5 linked regions of the Homo sapiens genome follow. The protein of the gene in region 1 purifies or fractionates together with the protein of each later gene. This does not show direct contact. Each region holds a gene or a part of one and is shown in the gene's direction. Other genes may lie near its edges.

Region 1 (4,581 bases):
TAACAGACTCATGCCCTGATGTGCCCCTGGCTCTCTGATGTCTGTCTCTCCAGGCCTGTCTCCGAGTTCTTCCTAATCCGAGACACAAGCCTCATTCCCAACGTACTCTGGTTTGAGTACACGGTAACCCGGGCAGAAGCCAGGTGAGTTCAGGGGACAGCAGTGCTCACTGGGCCAGCCACAGGCAGCCTCTGCCTCCATGTTTGGAGGGCTCTCCGGGAGCCTCGCGCCTGCCTAAGCACTTCTCTTGCATTAACTCATTGAATCCTGCTGTGACCCCCATTTTGCAGATGATGAAACTGAAGCTTGGAGAAGAGAAGTCACTTGCTCGAGATCTTGCAGATAGTGGGTGGGGGAGCAGGGTGGTGAACCCAGGCTGTCTGGCCCAGGGCCCATGCTTTTAACCTCTGCAGCCCAGAACCAGAGAGCTGGGCAGCTGAGGTTCTCAGGGCTCCTGTGTGTGGACATCCCTAGGGATTAGTCCAGATGCTTTCTTAGGCCTGGGTAAACTGAGGCACATTGAGTTAGGAGGCCAGCCTGTAGTTGTGCAGCAAGTCAGGACAGAGCTGAGCTTTGGAGACTCCTGACTCATGCTGTTTCATTCACCCCAAATCCTGGGTGAGGTTCTTAGGGGAGTGGGAAGGCTGGCTTTTCTTTTTTTTCTTTTTTTTTTTTTTTGAGACGGAGTCTCGCTCTGTCGCCCAGGCTGGAGTGCAGTGGCGCGATCTCGGCTCACTGCAACCTCTGCCTCCCTTGTTCACACCATTCTCCTGCCTCAGCCTCCCGAGTAGCTGGGACTACAGGCGCCCGCCACCACGCCCGGCTAATTTTTTGTATTTTTTAGTAGAGACGGGGTTTCACCGTGTTAGCCAGGATGGTCTCAATCTCCTGACTTTGTGATCCACCCGCCTCGGCCTTCCAAAGTGCTGGGATTACAGGTGTGAGCCACCTCGCCCGGCCGAAGGCCGGCCCTTCTCTGGGTTCAGAGGGGAGCTGAGGCTCCACAGGAAGCCTGGGAGGTTTCTAGGCAGGCTGAGAGGGACTGTGGGGCGGGGTAGGGTGGGGCGTCCTAGCAGCCAGGAAACGTGTTTAGTGCATCAAGGTCCAAATTATCCTAACGAGCTTAAGGGCAAAGCCGGGGATCCATGAGGAAAGGGGATTGGAGGGGGTTAGGGCAGGCAATCCTATTAGAGGCAGAAAGGTCCCAGCTGGCCCCGCTGATCTCTCACTGGCCTGCCCCGCCTCACCCTGCCCTGCCCCGCCTGGCCGGCCTCCACCTGCCTTCATTTACCAAAATCTCAGGGCACACCTGTTCTGTGCCAGGCTGTGTGCTGGGGGCAAGCACAGTGACAGCCATGGTCCCCTGCTCACTGTGTTCACGGCAGGCAGGGAAGAGCTGCGACGCACCTGCCTATGTGATCAGTGCTGTGGCCTGACAGCTTGTGTCGGGAGCCTATGTGGGGACGTGGGAGCTGGGGGTGGGGGGAGGTGGGGGGGGATGGGGGGATGGGGAGGGTAGGGGGGTGGGAGGGTGTTGTGGGGGTTGGGGGAAACGTTCTCAGCAGAGGGAAGGGCATGCACAACTCCTGAAGCTGACAAAGCTTGGTGACTGCACCAGACGGAGGCTGCCGGGGCTGGAGCCCAGGGAGCAAGGGGTGTGTTGTGGGATGAGGCTGGGGACAGATCACACAGGACCAGTCAGGTTTCTAGATTTTAACTGGGACCCTAGACAAACCCCATTCTCCTCTACTGAGTCTCTGTCAGCCCCTCTAGAAAATGGGGGTGATTGGCCCTGGTTCCCTCAGGTTCCTGGGCTCACTCTGGATATAGCCACAGCCCAAATTGGGTGCTCAAATCCCCTCAGTAACCTCCATCAGTAGTTCTCCTGCTTTCGCTTGCATACCTCCCGGATGGGGAGCTCACTACATTTCTGTACTTCTGTTTTGATCAATAACAACTGAGCCCACTTGTGCTGCCTCGTCTATAAAGCGAAACTCCCCATAACTAATTGGAACCCAGCCAGGTCCCTCTTGCCTCTGTAGTCTCATCCTGGTCCCTACCCCTGCTCCAATCCCCTGGCTCCACTTCTGGGATTGCAGAGCTGAGATAACTGAGGTACAGGCCTCGCCGGGGAGATCAGCCCTGTCTAGGTGCCATTCCCAGGGCAGGTGCTCTGATTGGCCCAGTTCAGGTCAATCGCTGGCTACTGGGTGTGGGCATTTGCCTACTTAGTTGGGACTACGGGTGGGGTGGGGACAGCTGTAGGTCACTGAACACCAGATGTCTCCACATCTGACCCCCATCCTGTTTTGCAGGAACAGACAACGCAAGCTGGGGACGAAACTGCAGTGACCAGTGGGTGTGGCTGGGTCCAGCCTCCAGATCTGGCCCGCACGATGCCTTGCAGGATGGACAGGATGACAGACAGGGACGAAGCAGAGACCTCTACAGACCCAAGTCACCAAGTGGAGCCTTTTTTTTTCTTATTTTAATTTTAATGAACAAGGTGGACCAAAGGGCTGAACCAGCCCCTCAACCAGGACCCTGGGGGGCCTGCTGCCTGGGGGCCGTGGCCAGAGACCCTCGCTGTGCTGCTGCCAGCCCCTGGCTGGGCAGAAAGTGCCCTCGGCATGGGCACCTGGGTGTGGGGTGGAGGAGGAGGGCTCGCGCCTCTGGTCTCGGGGCCAGGAATTCCAGGTGGCGTGAGAAGTACACACTATTTATTTTTTGGTTTTGTCAGAGGCAGGCAGGATTTTGGAGCTGGAAGAATCTGCTCTCCGGTGGCTGCCCTGTGAACAGAGGGCTCCCGGTCAGCTTCCCAGGCCCTTCGCCCTATGCCCAGAGGGCAGACTGCCTCTCCCTGGGCCGGGGTGGCCTGGGTGCCAGGAGGAGGGGAGCATACCCCACACCCTCCCTGCCACCGTTGCCGTTCCAGAACCTCGGTCAGTGTTTCCCTGTCTGGGGGCAGGGCCCAGAGCGAGCACGCGTCTGGCGGCTGCTGTCGTTGTGTTCTACCCCGTACTGACCCAACACCACAAGGGCTTTCTCTGGTCCCCTGTCCCTAAGACAATAATCGCTTTCTGACAAAGGAGCCTGCACATTTGGGTGAGCAGACCCAAGCTGTTTACAGCTCTTTCTTGTCCTGCCATCCAGTAGCAGTTAGTCTTCATCCCCACGTGAACAAAATGGGAAGGAGCCGTGAGGAGAGGAGTGAGGCAACAGGCACCCGAAGTCCCTCGTCCTTCCCTCTGTGTGCTCTGAATATGTCCTTGTCCTTCCTGACCCATCTCTGACCAGCTGGGAACCTGCTTGGGGTCCCCCTCAAACCTGTGTCTGGGGTGTGGGCTCACAGATCCCTATCAGCCTGGTTCGTGGGAGGGCTCTTCCTAAAGGGACCCCCATCTCTAAGTCACTCTGAAAGGGAGTTGTGGAGAGGAGACGCCTCCAGACTCTCAGAAGTTTTGAGGACTGAACTGGGTCACTCGGGATCTGTGTTCGAATCCTCCCCACCCCTTTCTTTGTGGAGTTTCCTAACCTGCTGCTGAAGCACAATGTTTTGGTGCTTTCTTTTCTCATTTGTTAAAGGCAGTGTCCAAAAGCCATTCCAGATGCCAAGACCAGGGGCTTATTTCTAGGGAAGGTAGGTCGGTTTCCATGTTTCCCTCCCGTTATTTTTATTTTTTACTTTTTGCCTGAGACAAGCCGAGTATGAGGTGGTTTGATTTAAGAAAAATCAATGAAATTGTTTACTACTGTTTTAAAATAAAACCGTAAACTCTGGCAGCTTGAGCACTTGCTGATTGAGCTCAGGAGAGGAGATTGGGGCAGCTGTGGGGACACATGACCCTTAGGGGCAAGGATACGGTGAAGACCATAAAACCAGAAGTGATCTAGTCCCTTCTAGCCCACAGCAGGGGTCTGAATGACCTCTGCGGCATTTCCTGTCAGGGTCTGTCCAGCTTCTGATTACATCCCTCCAGGGGACCTCACTGAGGGCCACCATACCAAACCTGGACACTCTCAGCCTTAGGAAGTTTTCCTCTTTTCACTGTCAGTCTCCCTCCCTGTGTGGCGCTGGCCCTCCTCTCACTGAGCCTTGTTCCTCCTCTGTGGGACAGCCTTGAGGACTCAGGGGCAGCCAGTGTGCCCTTCAGAGTGTGCCAGGATAAACATCTCCACTTGGTCTGACACAGTGGCTCACGCCTGTAATTTCAGCACTTTGGGAGGCCAAAGGAGGAGGATCATTTGAGCCCAGGAGTTTGAGACCAGCCTGGGCAACGTAGCAAGACCCTGTCTCTACAAAATATTTTTTTAAAAATGAGCTAGGCGTGGTGGTGCACACCTGTGGTCCTAGCTACTCGAGGGGCTGAGGTGGGACGATCGCTTGAGCCCGGGAGTCAAGGCTGCAGCCAACTGTGATCACACCACTGCACTCCAGCCTGAGAAAAACCCCATCTCAAAAACAAATATATGTGGACAAAGATGATCAAATATAAAAGGAAAAAAGACACCATGATGGAGCAGCAGCAGAAAACAGATAATAGAAACAAACCCACAAATTCTTCAAATACTGGAATGATT
Region 2 (4,667 bases), 1.4 Mb from region 1:
CTCCTTTGTAAATAGGTGGTAATGGCAGTCTCCACCTTGAGAGGATGCACCTGTGACTGTGAACATAGTAGCCGCTCTTGTTGTCATTCCAGCTCTGACGTTTTCAAGTAGCACGAGTTTTCCTTAGTGTCAAGTGAGCGCCCAGGCTGGCCTGTTTGCTGGAAGCTGGACAGATGGCTGTGGCTGGGGCCACAGAGAATGCCATCCCAATGAAAGCCAGGTGGCTCTGGTACCTTGACGCGAGGCCACCTTCCCTCCTCCCAGGTGTCTCTTCCGGGGAAGGAGGGCTGGAGGGCAGTGGGCATTTGCCAGGGAGCTGGAGAAACCTGCCGTGGCCCTTTCTGGGGGATGTGGTGGGGGTGGAGCTGGGACTAGGGGAGGCTGAATTCAGCCAGGATCTGCCTGCCAGGCGCAGCTCCCAGGAAGAAAGCCCAATGTCTGGGAGGGTCAGAACCCAGAGGGCTGTCAGGTTGTACAGATGAGGAAATTGAGGCTTAGCAAGCCAGGAACTTGGCTGAGGTCAGCCATAGCAGCGGTGCACAGAGCTTAGTGGGCACATACATGCTTGGTGCCCAGCTCTGGGCTCCTTCCCCCAGCATCTCACCCAATCCTTACAGTCGCCCTGTGGGGAGCAGGCTGTTTGCACCCCTATTTTGCAGCTGAGCAGTTATGCTAGAGAGCTGAAGCCACTCAAACCCATGTCTGGTGGACTTGACCTCTGTCCTGTGCCTGGAGTGAGCGCTCACTGGATTGCAGCTGTGGTTCCTTCTCTCCCTGTCACTTCCTCCCCCGACATCAAACCCTCAGTTTCATTTAGTTTTTGCCTCGGGCTGCAAATGCAGCTTAGGGACCTGCGGAGGCTGAGGGAGGGGGGTGCCCCACCCGCTGCTGGGAGGGCAGGAGCAACGCTGCTGTCTGATTGCATCATTTTCCCAAGCCCATCTGCCCAGCTCATTTCTCTGCATGCATACACTGGCCCCAACACCCACACACGTGTGCATGCACACAGGCACACATGTGCAAGCCCAAACACATCACACACATGCATGCACACACATTGTGTACTCTCAGGTACGCACCCCTGGGTGCACACAGGTGTGTGCGCGCGCACACACACACACACACACACACTGTCTCAGGTACACACGCCAGGTCCATGCATTGCTTCACACTGCCCAGCCCCAGAGGCTGAAGGCCTCAGAGCCCACACCTGCCCAGCTACAACCTGGCAGGCAGGAGGGGCTCACTGGTTTCTTTTGGTTTATTTAAGACAGAGTTTCACTCTGTCACCCAGGCTGGAGTGTGGTGGCACGATCTTGGCTCACTGCAACCTTTACCTCCCAGGTTCAAGCGATTCTCGTGCCTCAGCCTCCCAAGTAGCTGGGACTACAGGTGTGTGCCGCCACACTCAGCTAATTTTTGTATTTTTAGTAGAGACGGGGTTTTGCCACGTTGGCCAGGCTGGTCTGGAACTCCTGACCTCAAGTGATCCACCCACCTCGGCCGTCCAAAGTGCTGGGATTACAGGCATGAACCACTGTGCTCGGCCATGAGAGCATGTGTAGGACTCCACAGCTTCAGGGCACCCCAGCCCTCTTTTTGCGGTGAGGAGCTGACCTCCAGAGAGTGGAACTAGTAGCATTGTTCTAAGTGCCTGCCACAGGCATCTGGGAGATGGTCCCTGTTTCCATGGAGCTCATAGTGGGGGAGAGGGCAGTTAGAATACAGCATGATGGCCGGATGTAGTGGCCCATGCCTGGAATCCCAGCACTTTGAGAGGCTGAGGCAGGCAGATCGCTTAAGTCCAGGAGTTCGAGTCCAGCCTGGGCAATGTAGTGAAACCCCATCTCTACAAAAAATACAAAAATTAGGCAGGTGTGGTGGCATGTGCCTGTAGTCCCAGCTACTTGGGGGTGGTGGCACTGAGCTGGGATGGGAGGATCCCTTGAGCCCAAGAGGTGGAGGCTGTGGTGAGCTGAGATTGCATCACTGCACTCCAGCCTAGGTGACAGAATGAGACCCTGTCTGAAAAAAAAAAAAAAAAAAAAAGGATACAGCTCTGATGGGCAGGAGGCATGGCGGGTCACTGAGGCGATGCAGGTGATCCAGCTGTTTCTGTGGAGCTGCCCCTCCGTGTTTCTGTGGAGCTGCCTCTCTTGGCTCCAGGTGCCTCTGGGAGGAGGCAGGAGCAGGGGTGACTCTCAGAGCTGGGTGAATCTTGGGCCAGCATCATCAGATCACACTTGCCCAGGACTTCCCTTCCTTGAGTCTCCAGTGGTGGTCTTGTACCTATGAGCAGGGGGTTAAGGAGCCGAGCTGATCTGAGTTGGAGTCCTGGCTCTGCTGCCTACCAGTCAAACGAGATGCAGGGCAAGTTCCTCAGCCCAAGCCTCAGTTTTCCTGACTCTAAAATGAAGAGAACCCCAGATGGAAGGGCTTAGCCTAAGACGGACATGTCTATTCCCTTGATTGTGGTGTTGATGTCACGGGCGCATCCGCACGCCGAAACTTGCTAAATTGGACACAAAAAAATATGCGATTATTTTTGTAGTTGATGAATGTGCTGATTGGGTATTCTCGTGTGTGTGTGAGGTGCCACCCTCAAACTTTGTTATGATGTTGGCACATTACCCATCTGATATTTAAAAAATGCAATTTATGATATGTCAAGTAGACCTCAATAGAGCTGTTTTAAAACATACAACAGAATTTCCCGCAACCCAACCACACCACCCGCGCCATCACACGCAAACAGGGGTAGGCTTCCACATATTTCCTGAATGCCTTCTGGAGCAGGGGGCAGGAGGCAGGAGGCAGGACAGGTGGCTCTGGGGCTCCTGGACCTCCTCTGCTCAGTGAGGCTGCTCACAGGAGATTGGGCGGCTGGAAAGTAAGGTTTAGGGCCTCTGGGATGGCCCAGGCTACCTGCAGGCAGCTGAGTAGCTCTGCTTTTGCAGAGTGGTTCACTGCACTGTGAAAACAGATTCCAGACGCCGGGAACTCACGCCTCCAATCCCAGGTACTGCCCACCTTAAGTCCTCCCTGCCTGCCTTCCTCCCTCCTTCCCTCCATCCTGCATGGCCAATTGCCTGGCTGCAGTTGCCATGGATACCACCTGCTGGCTCCAGGGTTAGGGCTGGCTGAGTCACCAGCAACTCAGGGGCAGGGGGTTGAATGCCCAGTAGGGACGTTGTGGGCACCGACCAGAACCATCTTCTCTGCCCCAGCTGCATGGTCCATGAGGTGTTTCCCCTTCTAAGTCCAAAGGGCAGCACAGGCCTGTGAGCCCCGGCTGACTGGCAGGTGGGACCGTGCAGCATGCACGGGACTGAATTCTCATGTGACGGAGCTCCAAAGTCCACCTGGCTACACGGCCAGGCTCTGCAGCAGAGGACGGGAGGCCTGGGAAAGGCACTTCCTCTCCCCGAGCTTCCAGGCACACAGAGAGTGCTCAGGATAGCGATGCCTGCATCACTGCAATGGTGATGGCCGGGTGACCCTTCTGGGCTCCACTTCCCCAGTAGTGTCTAATAAAGACCCTGGGTGACTCTGACCTTGTGACGTTGGTCAGACTCCAGTGGAAACGTTCCCAGGCAGAACAAACATGCCCTGTACATTTGGGAAATGCGGGATGCTGGGGCCAGGTGTCCACGGAGGCTGGAACCAGGAGGCCTGGGCCCACATCTGCCCCTGCTGCTTGTTGATCCGATGACCCTGGGCAGGTGACCTCGTCTCCCTAACCCTGGTTTCCTGTTCAGCAAATTGGACACAGTGAAGACGCCCAAGCCCAGGGCCACAGGAGGCATGTGGGGGAGGGGGGTGCAGGGCGAGCCCAAGGGCAGCCCAGGATTCAGGGAGAGCCCTCGGGGAAGAAGCATGGCTGCAAAGATCAGGAGACAGGAGGCCTTGGCGCCTTCGGGAGGCTTCATTGTGACGGAGGGTGGGGCAGGATGGGAGACCGCAGGCACTTCCCGGCTGCAGAGGGCCTGGCTGCAGAGAGCCCTCGTGCCCATCTGTCCCCCCGGGAAGGGCCGCTGGTTGCAGAGGTCTTAGGCCTCTGCCTGTCTATCGCCTTCCCTCCCTGGGCCTCAGTTTCTCTACCTCCACACTGGGGGAAGTTGGTCTCTGAGCCCCTCCAAACTGGGCATTGGCAGAGTTGAATTCAGAGGCGCTCACATTTGGAGACACGATGTCTAAAATTCCAGCCAGTGAAGGTTCCATGGGGTTGCAGGTAGGAGAGGGACTGGGGCTGGGCCCCTGCCCCACAGCATCCTTCTCCACCTGCAGGTGGGCGGCGGCACTGCGTGCTGGGGAAGCACAGATTCTTGTGCCCTCTGTGACCTTGAGCCTGCCACTGACCTCTCTGAGCCCTGCTGGCTGCCTCCCCAATAGGAATGACAACTCCTACTTCATGAGGTTGTAGTGGGGGCTCAGGGGCACAGGGAGATCCCGCTGAGGCTCCCAGGGCCCTGCCTGGTGCTTGGCAAGGAGCAGTTCTGATGGGGGATGTGTCAGCTGCCAGAGGCTCAGAGCCAAGGCCCCTCCCACATCTCCTGCCTGCGTGCATTCCTCACATCCTGGCCTTGGGCCAAACTGCTCAGCCTCAGCCGCCTTCCCTCGATGCTGGAGGATCAGGTCCAAGAGATGCCTCTCCCCGACCAGCCTAG
Region 3 (4,088 bases), on another chromosome or scaffold:
CCCTCCCTGTGCCTTAATTTCTTCATATATGGAAAGGGAATACTAACATATACCTTTCATGGGCATGCAAGGATTAAATGGGGGAGGTGTGTAAAGCTCCTAGTACATAGAGAAGCTGAAAATATTCAGTCAAACAAAGAATAATAGAGCTAGGAGGGACCTTAGAGTTCCTCTTCCCCTGGCTTCTCCTGTCCTCACTGTACAAAGGAGGAGACCAAGGCTCAGAGAGCGTACATATTTCCCTAAGGTCAGAGTGAATTAATGGTGTCCCTGTCTTGCTGCTGGGAGAGAGGTCCTTTCTTGCATCTCTTTCACAGCAGGGGGAAGGTGACTCACCTGGAGAGTGGAGTGTGTGTGTGTGTGTGTGGGTGTGGGTGTACACACATGCATAAGCCTTCCCTTCTTCTAGAGTGGGTGTCCCATCCCCCACCCCACAGGGACTGAGGTTGGGGTGGGAGCTCTCAGAGACCAGGCCTCTCTCCACTTCACTTTCAGGCCTGAACAATGGGGACCTGGTGTTGAAGGATATCTCCAGAGCAGATGATGGGCTGTATCAGTGCACAGTGGCCAACAACGTGGGCTACAGTGTTTGTGTGGTGGAGGTGAAGGTCTCAGGTAGGTGCAGCAGTCTTGAGGGCTGGGTGGTTGGGAGGGTTGAACTGGAGGAGGCTGGGCTCTGGTTTGGAGCCTCAGCTGCTTCTGCCTTTCCACTGCCATCCATTTGCCAGTGGGGGCTCCCAGCCCCTTTCCTACAAGTGGGCCAAGATCAGTGGGTACGATCTTGACCCTATTGAGCTGGGTCAAGCTCGCCCAGCACAGCTTCCACTCTGAGCTCTAGAGCCCAGAGCAGCTGGAAGCCCTGGGAGAAGCATGCTGACACGAGGGGTTAACTTGCATCTCCCCATATCTTCCCCACTGGGTGTTCCAGGGCTAAGAGACCCCCTGGGTCCCTCTCCCTCTTTCCCATTAACCCCTGACCTGGCACCTCCTGGTGCTGTTCCCTCAGGCACCTGCCAGGCTGTGAGAAAGCCTGACCTGCCTCCACTTCTCTCCACAGACTCCCGGCGTATAGGCGTGATCATCGGCATCGTCCTGGGCTCTCTGCTCGCGCTGGGCTGCCTGGCCGTAGGCATCTGGGGGCTCGTCTGCTGCTGCTGCGGGGGCTCCGGGGCTGGCGGCGCCCGCGGTGCCTTCGGCTACGGCAACGGCGGCGGGGTCGGCGGAGGGGCCTGCGGCGACTTGGCTAGTGAGATCAGGTAAAACCTGATGCATGCTGCATGCTGCTGTGCGGCAGGGAACCGGCGCCCTGCCCACCTCACTCCTGCCTGCCACCGGCCGGCTGGGCCCCCCACCCCAACCCTGCCCGCCATCGCCACGGAGTGCTGGGACTGCGGCATGTCGACCTGCCACCCAACTCATGGCTTTCCCCTCCCCCTGCCACCCCAGTCTTCACCTCTGCTCCCTGCCTTCCATTTCCCTCCTGCCTACGCACCTGTCTGTCTTGTCTAGACTGTAAGCTCCTGGAGGGCAGGGCCTATGTTTTTTCACGTTTCCCCTGTACTGCGCCGGTAAGAACTCTGACATTATTATTTAAGAAGAGCTAATAATAAGAATAGTGCTAATAACTTATATTAGAAGCAAACTAGAAATAAAAATAGAACAAGTCTAGTAGTGCTAATGATTGCAATGCCTCGGGGATGGAGGGAAAGATGGAGAAGACTGAGGGGCAGGAGGTGAGAAAGAGAGAGATTGCTCGAGCAAGGTCAGGATTAGCTAAGGAAAGAAGAAGAGGAAAAGCACCTTCTTCTGGGCCTGCGAAACATCAGAAAGGGATTGCAGGGGCCTGGAGGGGGCTGCCTGCAGGGCTCTCCAGATACGCGTGGACAAGCCCTGTCTGGAGGATGGGGATGCTGGCTCCGGGACCGCTGCAGGGTCGCCGACCCAGGAAGGGTCACAAAGGACAGTAGGTCGAGGCCGAGGGAGAGAGACGAGGGCAGGTGGAGGGAGGCGCGGGAGACAAGAGGTTGCCAAGAGCCCCCGGCTCTGCCCAGGCCGTGCCCACGCCCCGCTGCGGAGCAGCCCGCTCACCCGCCCGCCTGTTGTTTTCCACAGAGAGGACGCCGTGGCGCCCGGGTGCAAGGCCAGCGGGCGCGGCAGCCGCGTCACCCACCTCCTGGGGTACCCGACGCAGAACGTCAGCCGCTCCCTGCGCCGCAAGTACGCGCCTCCCCCCTGCGGCGGCCCCGAGGACGTGGCCCTGGCGCCCTGCACCGCCGCCGCCGCCTGCGAAGCGGGCCCCTCCCCGGTCTACGTCAAGGTCAAGAGCGCGGAGCCGGCTGACTGCGCCGAGGGGCCGGTGCAGTGCAAGAACGGCCTCTTGGTGTGAGCGCGCGCGCCGGGCCGGGCTGCGCCCCAGCCAGGAGGAGGGCGCGGGGCTCTCTGTCTGCAGCTGGGGACACGTCGGGGCTGGGGACGACCTCGCTCGCCCCAGGCTGCCAGGCGGCTGGGGGTGAAGGCATTTCCCTAAGGAAATGCGTAGGGAGGCAGAGCCTCCTCCCCAAAAGTGGGAAGGGGCGGGCGAGGGCGGAGGAAGGCGATCCTGAGCCTTCTCCGCACCCCCGGGACCGAAGGCTTGGGGGAGAGGGAGGGAGGAGGAGGCTGAGTGTCCTAGAGCGGCTGAGGCCGGAGGCCTGGTGTCCCCAGCCTAAGCAGAGGGCCCCGGGGGCCGGGTGGGTGGGGGTCTGTCTGGACGAATTGTTCTGTGTGTGAGGTCTGAGCTCTGAGGCAGCAGTGTTAGCACAATAAAGAAACATTGAGACGTGAGTCCGAAGTGGCTGTCCGCGTTCCACGGAGGTTGGGCACGGGGTGGCGAACCCTGCCCAGGGCCGGGGAGGGTTGCTTCTGTCGCTCGCCTCGACCACGCCCCCTCTCCTCCCTCCTGCTTAGATCCCTGGCAGTCAGAGCTGGAAGGGGCCATCCAGGGCAACTCCTCTGAACAACATACAAAGTGCAGATAAAAGGAAAACAAAGACAAAAAGAATTAGCTCAGAATATCTACGACCGTAAAATAAACTGAGGAACCGACAAAGTGCAATACACTTGCCATTTCTAAATATTCAAAGTTTTCACATGTCAAGATTTTCTATTGAGAATAATGTGCTCTGAAGGTCTAGGGAGTCTTTGTATGTTGCTGAAAGCTAAAAGGAAACCAGTCCTTGGAGCACAGAAGGCACAGGCATCCGGTGAGACAGAAACAAGGACATGTGAAAATAAGACTACAACCTCTTATATTAAAAAACTAAGTGCCACAGTTCTAGGGTGCTGGGTGAAGTGCAGGAAGGAGGGGGAATAATATTTATATAGCATATATTATGGAACTCGGAGAGTATGGTAAATCCCTTCACCTAGATGCTGCTGGTGTTTTAGAACAATTATTTTTGTGGTTCTTTTTTTTTTTTCATTTGTCTGCAGTTGGTCAACTTGTGCAGAGCCCATTCTGCAGGAGATGTTTGAGAAATACCAAGTGAATGAGTGTGGCAGCATTACTTTATGCTAGAAAAAAAAAGTTTTTAGATATTTTACAGTTACTGCCTTATGATGGAATATTCTGTGGTGAGAATCTAGGCCTTTCTGAGATCCAGCTCCACGTTCTTACACCCTGAAGTAGTCAGCCACTCCTAGATAGGGATTAATTGAGCTATTTAGTATTTACCAGCACTTGTTTTGTTAAACACCTTGTCATGATATTTACAATGTATTTTGGGGGATGTTTTAGTCATTTTTGGTTCAAAAGTGGAAATCAATAAGCACTGTTTTTGTTAATAGGCGCAAGACGTCCTCTCTTGTTTAGTGAGATGGGGAGTGCTTAATTGAAGAGTAATGTTTGAGATAAAGTTCCAAGGATATATTTGCTAAGCAAACAGTAAGTAAAGTGGGCAGTGTTATAGATGTTCCTTTGTTGATAAAGGGACCAGGTGGTCACACAGCAAGGAGGGGGATGCAGACAAGTAGACAAGCTCTACTAATCCTTCTTTGTTCAACATCATCTCTGTTGGGCATTGGAATCTACTTTGCTAATGCAATGCCCA
Region 4 (4,667 bases), on another chromosome or scaffold:
AATTTCAATCCTCTGCTTAATCTAAGAGAAAAACCACAATCATAGAAGCGAAAAACAGTGTTTTAGAAAATTGATAGGCATAGGGAGAGTCAGAAGAGGAGAAATAAAAAGATAGTATTGGGGCACTAGGTACCTAGATTATATGTGAATTAGAACAGTGTAAAATATTCTGGAAATAACCACAGTGAAGTACACAGATCTTCTCTATATCCTGCCCTTCTCTATCTCCTTTTCTTCTTCCAATATTCTTAGAGTAAACGAAGTCTACTGACTTATAAGTTACCTTGATGTTCACAGTTTTAGTTATTAAATCAGTTAACAAATTGACAGACGCAAAAAAACCTGTGAAGTCTGCCAGGATGGGTGGAGGTAAAAGCAGTTCAGATAAAGGAACTGAAGACTTGAAATTGTGCCTGGTAGAGACCAGATCTTCTTCCAGTGAGGTCAAGCACTTTAAATCTATCATCTGTAACAAGATCCAGATAGTCACACTGAACAGAGGATATCACAAGCCCCCAACAGGCTATCAGTGAGGTGCTCTGAAATCAACATAGCTGAAAAGCCACAAAAAAAATCCTAAGTATACCACATACAAAAATAAATAAGCAATATGTGTTTCTGAAAATGAATAAAGGATGTTTTACATTGCTATGATTTAATAAATAGAGCTGAAATAAACTCATACATTTTATTAACAATTATCCTAGGAGCCAGAAGAGTAAAAATGATGAAATTTTAAAACTTGCAGACCTGTATATTAATGTATATATCATTGAATTTTTATTGATATATATGTACTTTTTATAAACCAAGGCAATCATCACTATAAAACATAAAAACACAATATTAAAGTTTGCCACATTGTAGCTGTTACATGATTTAAAAGTACTAACTTTCATAAAAGCATGATAACGAACTTTTTTATTTAAAAACAGATATATCATAGGGCATGATGCAGGCAGCTGGTTAAAAATTGATTCAAGAACTGGTGAGATACAATTTTCTAGAGAATTTGATAAGAAGTCAAAATATATTATCAATGGGATATACACAGCAGAGATCCTGGCTATAGATGGTAAGAAAATTTATTTTCAGTATTTTAAGAAAACTAGTACTATTATATTAAATATTATGTTATTCTAATGCTGATATTTGAGTGACTCAGACATTTTTAATGGTGTATGCAAGACTTATGGAAAGCCCTAAACACCTTAAATCAAGAATTGAAGTCAATTAAAATCATAATTTACACTGAAGCCATAGTTTATTTCATCTACTTCCAAAACTGAGTTGTATATGGCTTACAGCATAAAAGTTAAAATATAATTCATCTTCTGATTATGACTTTGTCTCTTGAGTATGGCTAATCTCACTTGTAGGGTATGTTGGGAATGTTTACTTAAAGTAAGGGCTACGTGCTCTACAAAGTTCATTTGGGGATCACCTTGTGGGAAAGCAATGTCTCCAAGAATACAATTATTTTAGATCCATTAAAACTGAACTACAGTGAGAAGCTTGTGTGAGTGTTGCTTGATTAGACATATTTCCATAGTAAGATGCTATGGACCAAGAAAGCACAGATTATTCCAAATATAAGATCCATATTAAAAGTCATAAATACAGATGCACTGACTTAACTTGTAAGCGAGCCACCTCTCACATGGGTAAATCTGTTAAGCAGTCCTCTTGGTGAGCAGCAACAGGATTTGTTTATTTATCAATAGTTAATGATTCTATGAAGCAGTGCCTAGGAAACCAGCTGCTGTAGAACCAAACAAGAGACAAAGGTCAGGAACCACGAAGGAAGGGGAAAGACAGGCGTCCAAGATACATGCCTAATGTAAGACAGATACTGTAGGTTTGCATTGAGTTTATAGCTGACCTTTCCAGTATCAAAACAAAAATAAAGATAAAGAAGCAGCATAAAATTCAAAAAGAAACCATGATAAAACCAAACCAACTATCATCTGTACATCCTGGGCTTCATCCTGTGGCGGGTAAATTTTAACGCCTGGGTCAGTTTTATAAATAACATTGTCTTATTCATTATCAGTATTCTGGAAGCTCTAATTTGAAAATGGATTCTAACCATGTTGATTGCACCCTATGTTTGCATATTGGTCATATGTGAAAAATCTTCAAATGCTAGAATAAATAATTAGTCATTCCAAGCAAATAAAGAGAGAGAAAGTGCTGTCAAAATGTACCAAGAGAAACCCAGAAACAAAGCTGATTGTTTATTCACCTAAGCAGAGTGTCTGCACTGGCACAGAGCTATCTGAATGGTTGGAATAAGTTTGCTTCAGCACACACCATCATCAGGTGAAGAGACAGACCTCTATGCAGAGCAAACTTTACTGGGAAGCAAACACTATAAGCAATAGCTTGAGCTTTGGTTGCCAATCACAAGGTAATAGAAGAGCTACCAAAGATCAAAGAATGACAAATAAAACAATCTGTGGAATAATCTGATGCCTCTCGAATGAGAAGCTAAGTGAAATCGACATCCTTCATCTAGTAAAAACAAGTCCAATGCTGAATAGGGTATATAAACATATTATACAAAATCATATAGACTATAGGTAGGCTCTCAGTTTATTCTCATTCAGTTACCTCAATGACTACTACTTAGGCACACAGAAAACATCTGTAAAAGGAATTTATTGCTTTCTCAGAAAAGGACCTAGTAAGGTACCCCAGAGACGACAACGTTCTAGTTTAAAAGCGAGAAAGCTAAGATTCTTTTCAAGTTAAAAAGAAGCAAAAAAAATTCCGTATTCGCTGTAACAGAACATAGAGTAGAAAAGTGGACTAAAAAGCTCCTGGACTCCTAATCTTTAGTCTTTGGCCCTTTCTGATTAATTATACTATCCAAAAACTTGTTTCAAGTGGATTAGGGAAAAATCTAATAGACTTATATTTGTTTTCAGAAATGCCATTTCAGAAAGAAATAGCATGTAACAGATGCAATTAAAATAAACAGTGAGCACACAAGAAAAACACAAACAAGTATTTATTTCAGCTGTGGTTATTTCTACAAACACAGGACTCAGTGAGCATCCTGAATGGAGGTTCATAACTGACCTGGGGGTCTAATTTATGGGAACAGGGTGAGATTAGAAACCAGTAAACCTTCTCGGAGGAAGAACATTTGATTTTGCGCCTTAGGATGTGTCAGAATTAGCAAAATGAAATGAGGGTGGAAAACATTTTAGGAAGGGTGAAAAGAATGTGCCAGAGTCCAGAGTAAAAAAGAAACTTGTTTAAAGAACTCAAAAGAAGCAGTGTGGCTGGAAGGTAGCACACAAAGGGAAGAGTGACTTTGGGTCACTGAAGCGGGCAGGAACCTGTCAAGCCTCCCAAGTCACGTATATGTTTCCTACAAGTTCCATGGCATCATCAGGGGATATGAGAAAGAGTTTTCTCCCTAACACCATTTACCTCAACACCAATGACCCTTACTCTTTCAGATGGCTCTGGAAAAACAGCTACAGGAACCATATGTATTGAGGTTCCTGATATCAATGATTATTGTCCAAACATTTTTCCTGAAAGAAGAACCATCTGCATTGACTCTCCATCAGTCCTTATCTCTGTTAATGAACATTCTTATGGGTCTCCGTTTACTTTCTGTGTTGTTGATGAGCCACCAGGAATAGCTGACATGTGGGATGTCAGATCAACAAATGGTAAGTGAAACGTAAGCTTGTTTTTTGGACTTTAAGTCCAAAAGCAAAACAATTACCAAAAAATGTGGCAAGTCACTTAATAAAACATTCTACTTCTGTTTCCACAGTTCTTGCCATATTAACATTAAATGAAAAAAATATTTCATGTACACAGAGGATATTTGATAAAATTTTGAACTGAAATGAAATGAGTCAAAATGTTTCATTAATATTTAATTTACAAATAGTAGTGGATAAATACCAGTTTACCCATCATTTTGAGTAGGTAAAACGTTGAACCAATATTTATTCAGTTTAAAATAAACAGAACCCTTAACAAACTCATAAATTAAGAATGTCACAATTCCCTATTCTGAATAAATTCAGACAAATCACATAAATGTCTCTGAAACTCATATATCCCATAGATACATTTAAACATTTACTACTCACTTAGGAGCACATAAAATCAATTAAATTGTTTTTTACAGTAACTATGAGTTCAGACTTATTTTTAAGGGTAAAAATTTAAATCCAAATTGCTCAGTATTAGAGGAATGATTAAACAGAGTACATATTATTAAGATGTGTTAATATACAGCCATTAAAATTAGAATTATGCAAAGTATGTAGATACAAAAGAATGCATAAACCAAAGAAAGTAAAGTGAAAAACAGATCACGAAGTTGTATATGTATGTATCTTGACTATAACTACATACAATTGAATGGCTGACATCGATAAAAATTAAGAATAAATTTCAGATAACATAACATTTTATCTACCTTGCGTTCTTTTTCCTAAAACGTTAAGTGCATAATAAAAAAGAAAATGCTATGAGAGGATCTCATATGGGCTAAGATAGCTCCCCAATCTCATATTCATTTGGGGCTACAGGGAAAATTTCATGGGCTAGTCGGTGGCCATCAGACTACAGAGCCCAGGGTGAGAGGAAATACTTCCCACCTCTTTAAGGTCACCAAGCCCCTCTATTTACAG
Region 5 (4,667 bases), on another chromosome or scaffold:
AAAACAAGGCTACCCGAAAGTAATTTCCAGTTACTTATGGTCAAAACAGGGCAACATAGTTTTAAATTTTTACTCTTTTTAGATTGCCAGGTGAGAGCAGAGTTAAATAGCCAGTAGATTAATTATGAGCTACCATATTAGCTGTGTATAGCTGAAAGGTGACTCTTAATTTAAAAAGGGCTTGTGTGTTTATAAGGCCTACACAGGCAGCGTAGGGTCCATGGTCATATTCCAGTTCCCTTAAAGCAGTGGTTCATAAACATGTGTAAGAGTCAACTGGGAATGCTGGGTAAAAGGCAGCTTCTTTCGCCTTATACTGCAAGATTTTGGTGCAGTAGATCTGGTGTGAAAAGCCCAGTGATAAGCCTTTTTTTTTTTTTTTTTTTTTGAGACAGAGTCTTGCTCTGTCGCCCAGGCTGGAGAGTGCAGTGGTGCGATCTCAGCTCACTGCAAGCTCTGCCTCCTGGGTTCATACCATTCTTCTGCCTCAGCCTCCCAAGTAGCTGGGACTACAGGCGCCCACCATCATGCCCAGCTAATTTTTTTGTATTTTTAGTAGAGACAGGGTTTCACTGTGTTACCCAGGATGGTCTTGATCTCCTGACCTCGTGATCCGTCCGCCTTGGCCTCCCAAAGTGCTGGGATTATAGGTGTGAGCCACCACGCCCGGCCCAGTGATAAGCATTTTTAATAAGCTTCCTGGGTAACTTTGATGCCTGTGGTCTGTGGGCCACACAGTGAGCCTGGCAAAGACTGCCTCCCAGTGAAAGGATACTGAACCTGTCAATATAAGGACACTTGATCCAGATAATTTAAACAATCCCTTTCTGTCTCATTCCTTCATCCATCCAACTATCCATTCTTCCATTCAGCAAATGTTTATTAAATGTCTACTTTGTGCCAAGCATTGTTCCAGGTGCTGAGGAGGATATAGCAGAGAAAAACATCTAGTATCTGACCTAATGAAATTTATCTTCTAGTGAGAGGAACGAACAGTAAGAGAGTGAGAGGAAAAAGGGAAGAGAGAGGGAAAGAGTGAGAGGAAGGGAGGGAGATAAAAACATTTCACCTGTAAAAATTTTTGGGCTGGGCACGGTGGCTCACACCTGTAATCCCTGCACTTTGGGAGGCCGAGGCAGGCGGATCAAGAGGTCAGGAGATTGAGACCATCCTGGCTAACACAGTGATACACCATCTCTACTAAAAATACAAAAAATTAGCCAGGTGTGGTGGCAGGCACCTGTAGTCCCAGCTACTTGGGAGGCTGAGGCAGGAGAATGGCATGAACTTGGGAGGCGGAGCTTGCAGTGAGATAAAAACATTTCACCTGTAAAAATTTTTGGGCTGGGCACGGTGGCTCACACCTGTAATCCCTGCACTTTGGGAGGCCGAGGCAGGCGGATCAAGAGGTCAGGAGATTGAGACCATCCTGGCTAACACAGTGATACACCATCTCTACTAAAAATACAAAAAATTAGCCAGGTGTGGTGGCAGGCACCTGTAGTCCCAGCTACTTGGGAGGCTGAGGCAGGAGAATGGCCACTGCACTCCAGCCTGGGCGACAGAGTGAGACTCCATCTGGAAAAAAAAATTTTTTTTTTTAATGTGTCTCTAACATATAAGGACCAGCTCTGGCACAAAAAGATGTTCCTGGTTCATCTTGAACATTTCCTGCCCCAGGCAGGCAATCAGCCATTATTCTGAGGAGCGCTGGTTCCACTTAGCAGGAAATGGTATTTAGAGACCACAGTGTGGGAAGTAAAAGTGCTCCATTGCTATGGAGCTGTCGTTTATTTCAGGTGTTTTCAGTGGCAGGAACTAGAAAATATATATTTTTAAAAGGAAAACAACTATGCATTCAGATATTTCACATTTATATTTAAGAATGCAAGCATTTTACATCAGTTTTATATTTGTACCTCTGCTATCTTACACTAAAAATCCTAGTTCTAATGACATTAGCATTATTACTTATTTACATACAATAGTGTCAAAATAAGTATGACAGTATTACCAACCAACAATGAGACAGTAAATATAATTTAAGATTTTCTTGTGATTATTTATGTTCACAGGATGGATTCCTATGTAGTGGTATAGACTTATATGGATATATTTTAAAGTCACTTAAGATAATTCTCCTCTATGTGTTTATTAATCTTTCAATTTGTTATAGAGTTATGTTCATTTGTTCTTCTTTTTTATGATTCCATTTTTCCCCATTTGATTTAATTTTAAAATTTATGATAACATTTACATGGTTCCAAAATAAAAACTTTAAAAAAGATAGTTAGTCTATCCCCTATCCCTGTTCCCTTTACCTTCCTCTTACTCTCTCCATAACTAACAATTTTTATCAGTTTTTCATTCATCCTTGTATTGTTTCTTTTGAAAATATGAGCAAATCACACAAAATATACGATTGTATTTTCTTACCTTTCTTACACAAAGAGTACAATTCTATAAATACTATTTTGTCCCTGGAGAGAATTTTACAGGAGTATATACAGGTCTTATTCTTTCCTTTTGCAGCTGCATAGTGCTCCACTGTGGACGTAGCATCACTTACTCAACCAGTCCCTAAATTAATGACATTTGTGTTGTTTGCAGTCCTTTGCTCTTATCAACAGTGCTGGAATGAACAGCCTATCACAAAACTGTGTTCCACAGCAATGTGTGTGACAGCCTATTTCCTCACAACCTCTCCCACAGAGGGTATTGCCAAACCTTTGGGCTCTTGCCAACTAAAGAGTTGGAAAATGCAGCCAGGCGTGGTGGCTCACGCCTGTAATCCCAGCACTTTGGGAGGCCAAGGTGGGCGGATCACAAGGTCAGCAGATCGAGACCATCCTGGCTAACATGCTGAAACCCCGCCTCTACTAAAAATACAAAAAATTAGCCGGGTGTGATGGCAGGCGCCTGTAGTCCCAGCTGCTGGGGAGGCTGAGGCAGGAGAATGGCATGAACCCAGGAGGCGGAGCTTGCAGTGAGCCATGATCGCACCACTGTACTGCAGCCTGGGCGACAGAGCAAGACTCTGTCTCAAAAAAAAAAAAAAAAAAAGAGTTGGAAAATGCTGTTATAATGATGTTTTAATGTGGCCTTTCTCTTCTTTTGAGTGTGGTTTAACGTCTTTTATATGTTTAAGGACTATTTTCTTTTTTTGTCTATAAACTCGCTATATATTCTGCTGATAAGGTGATATTTGGACAGAGACCTGAAGGCATGATCATGTAGATACCAGGAGGAATAGCATTCTAGGCAAAAGGGACCACAAACATACAGGCTTTGAGGCAGAAACCTGCCTGGCATGTTGAAGGATAAGCACAAAGAAGAATGTGGCTGGAGGAGAGTGAACAAAGGGAAAGAGAAGTAGGAACAGGAGCAGAGGGCCACATCTAGTAGGTCTTGGAGGCTGCAGGATGGACTTGGCTATTCCCCTAAAGGAGGAGAAAGCCACTGGAAGGTTAAGAGAGAAGACTGATAGCAGCCCATGCATATTCCCACAGGGCCACTCCGTCTACTAAGTAGAGGATGGGCTGCAAGAGTGAATCAGGGAGGTCAGTTAGAAGGCTGTTAGGAGAGTCCAGATGAGCAATGATGCTGGCTGGGACTATGGCAGAAGCAGAGGTGGGAGAAGTGGTTAGATTCTTTTTTTTTTTTTTTTTTTTTTTTGAGACAGAGTTTCGCTCTTTTTGCCCAGGCTGGAGTGCAATGGCGCGATCTCGGCTCACTGCATCCTCCTCCTCCTGGGTTCAAGCGATTCTTCTGCCTCAGCCTCCCGAGTAGCTGGGATTACAGGCATGCACCACCATGCCTGGCTAATTTTGTATTTTTAGTAGAGATGGGTTTCTCCGTGTTGGTCAGACTGGTCTTGAACTCCCGACCTCAGGTGATCCGCCTGCCTTGGCCTCCCAAAGTGCTGGGATTACAGGTGTGAGCCACCACGCCCAACCAGATTCTATTTTTTTTACATCAAACATTTTAACAAAATCCTTTTTTTTTTTTTTGAGATTTGAGACAGGGTCTTGTTCTGTTGCCCAGGCTGGAGTGCAGTGGCACCATCAAAGCTCACTGCAGCCTCGACCTCCCGGGTTCAATCAATCTTCCTGTCTCAGTCTCCCATGCAACTGGGACTACAGGCATGTGCCACTACACCAGGCTAATTTTTGTATTTTTTGTAGAAATGAGTTTTGCCATGTTGCATAGGCTGGTCTCAAACTCCTACGCTCAAGCAATCGTCCTGCCTCAGCCTCTCAAAGTGCTGGGATTCTAGGCATAAGCCACAACATCCAGCCCTAAGTACTGTCTTATAACAAATATTTGGACTCTTAAGGTACAAGTTAACAGTCCTTGAAACCGTTAGAACAAACTTTTCAACATTACAGAAAATAACTTTGTATCTCCTTTAGCAAAAGCTCTGCCTCTCCTGTAACAGGTAGACTTGGACAGAAATTCACTTTTTAATGACAGAACAAAAAGACAAGAATAGATTTGACTTAAATTATTTTGGCAAATTCAATTTTTACTTCTAATTTTATTAAATATACATAGGAACTCAACTTCACAGTAAATGATATATAATAAGAATATATTTAAATTGTTATGGTGCCCTTCTTTCTTATCTTTCTAAACAAAGGCAAATTGGTTTTTTTTGAATTTTATTT

Evidence for each region.
Region 2: the proteins of DOLPP1 (region 1) and ASS1 purify together in Homo sapiens (affinity purification with mass spectrometry, with the first as the bait; one large-scale study listed by BioGRID). This does not show direct contact.
Region 3: the proteins of DOLPP1 (region 1) and VSIG8 purify together in Homo sapiens (affinity purification with mass spectrometry; 3 studies listed by BioGRID and IntAct, with this or other methods). This does not show direct contact.
Region 4: the proteins of DOLPP1 (region 1) and DSG4 purify together in Homo sapiens (affinity purification with mass spectrometry; one large-scale study listed by BioGRID and IntAct). This does not show direct contact.
Region 5: the proteins of DOLPP1 (region 1) and LYG2 purify together in Homo sapiens (affinity purification with mass spectrometry; 3 studies listed by BioGRID and IntAct, with this or other methods). This does not show direct contact.

Annotation. Positions count from the first base shown.
Region 1 is NC_000009.12:129,086,656-129,091,236, forward strand, and holds the end of DOLPP1 (dolichyldiphosphatase 1), read left to right. Parts: intron 1-53; coding exon 54-143; intron 144-2,315; coding exon 2,316-2,352; 3' UTR 2,353-3,783; downstream 3,784-4,581. UniProt on the Homo sapiens protein: Required for efficient N-glycosylation. Necessary for maintaining optimal levels of dolichol-linked oligosaccharides. Hydrolyzes dolichyl pyrophosphate at a very high rate and dolichyl monophosphate at a much lower rate. Does not act on phosphatidate.
Region 2 is NC_000009.12:130,447,315-130,451,981, forward strand, and holds part of ASS1 (argininosuccinate synthase), read left to right. Parts: intron 1-2,541; exon of another isoform or gene 2,542-2,641; intron 2,642-2,957; exon of another isoform or gene 2,958-3,019; intron 3,020-4,667. UniProt on the Homo sapiens protein: One of the enzymes of the urea cycle, the metabolic pathway transforming neurotoxic amonia produced by protein catabolism into inocuous urea in the liver of ureotelic animals.
Region 3 is NC_000001.11:159,853,051-159,857,138, reverse strand, and holds the end of VSIG8 (V-set and immunoglobulin domain-containing protein 8 precursor), read left to right. Parts: intron 1-495; coding exon 496-615; intron 616-978; exon of another isoform or gene 979-1,057; coding exon 1,058-1,256; exon of another isoform or gene 1,257-2,112; coding exon 2,113-2,386; 3' UTR 2,387-2,823; downstream 2,824-4,088.
Region 4 is NC_000018.10:31,399,946-31,404,612, forward strand, and holds part of DSG4 (desmoglein-4 isoform 2 preproprotein), read left to right. Parts: intron 1-935; coding exon 936-1,075; intron 1,076-3,470; coding exon 3,471-3,689; intron 3,690-4,667.
Region 5 is NC_000002.12:99,248,770-99,253,436, reverse strand, and holds part of LYG2 (lysozyme g-like protein 2 precursor), read left to right. Parts: intron 1-4,667. UniProt on the Homo sapiens protein: May act as a potent antibacterial protein that may play a role in the innate immunity.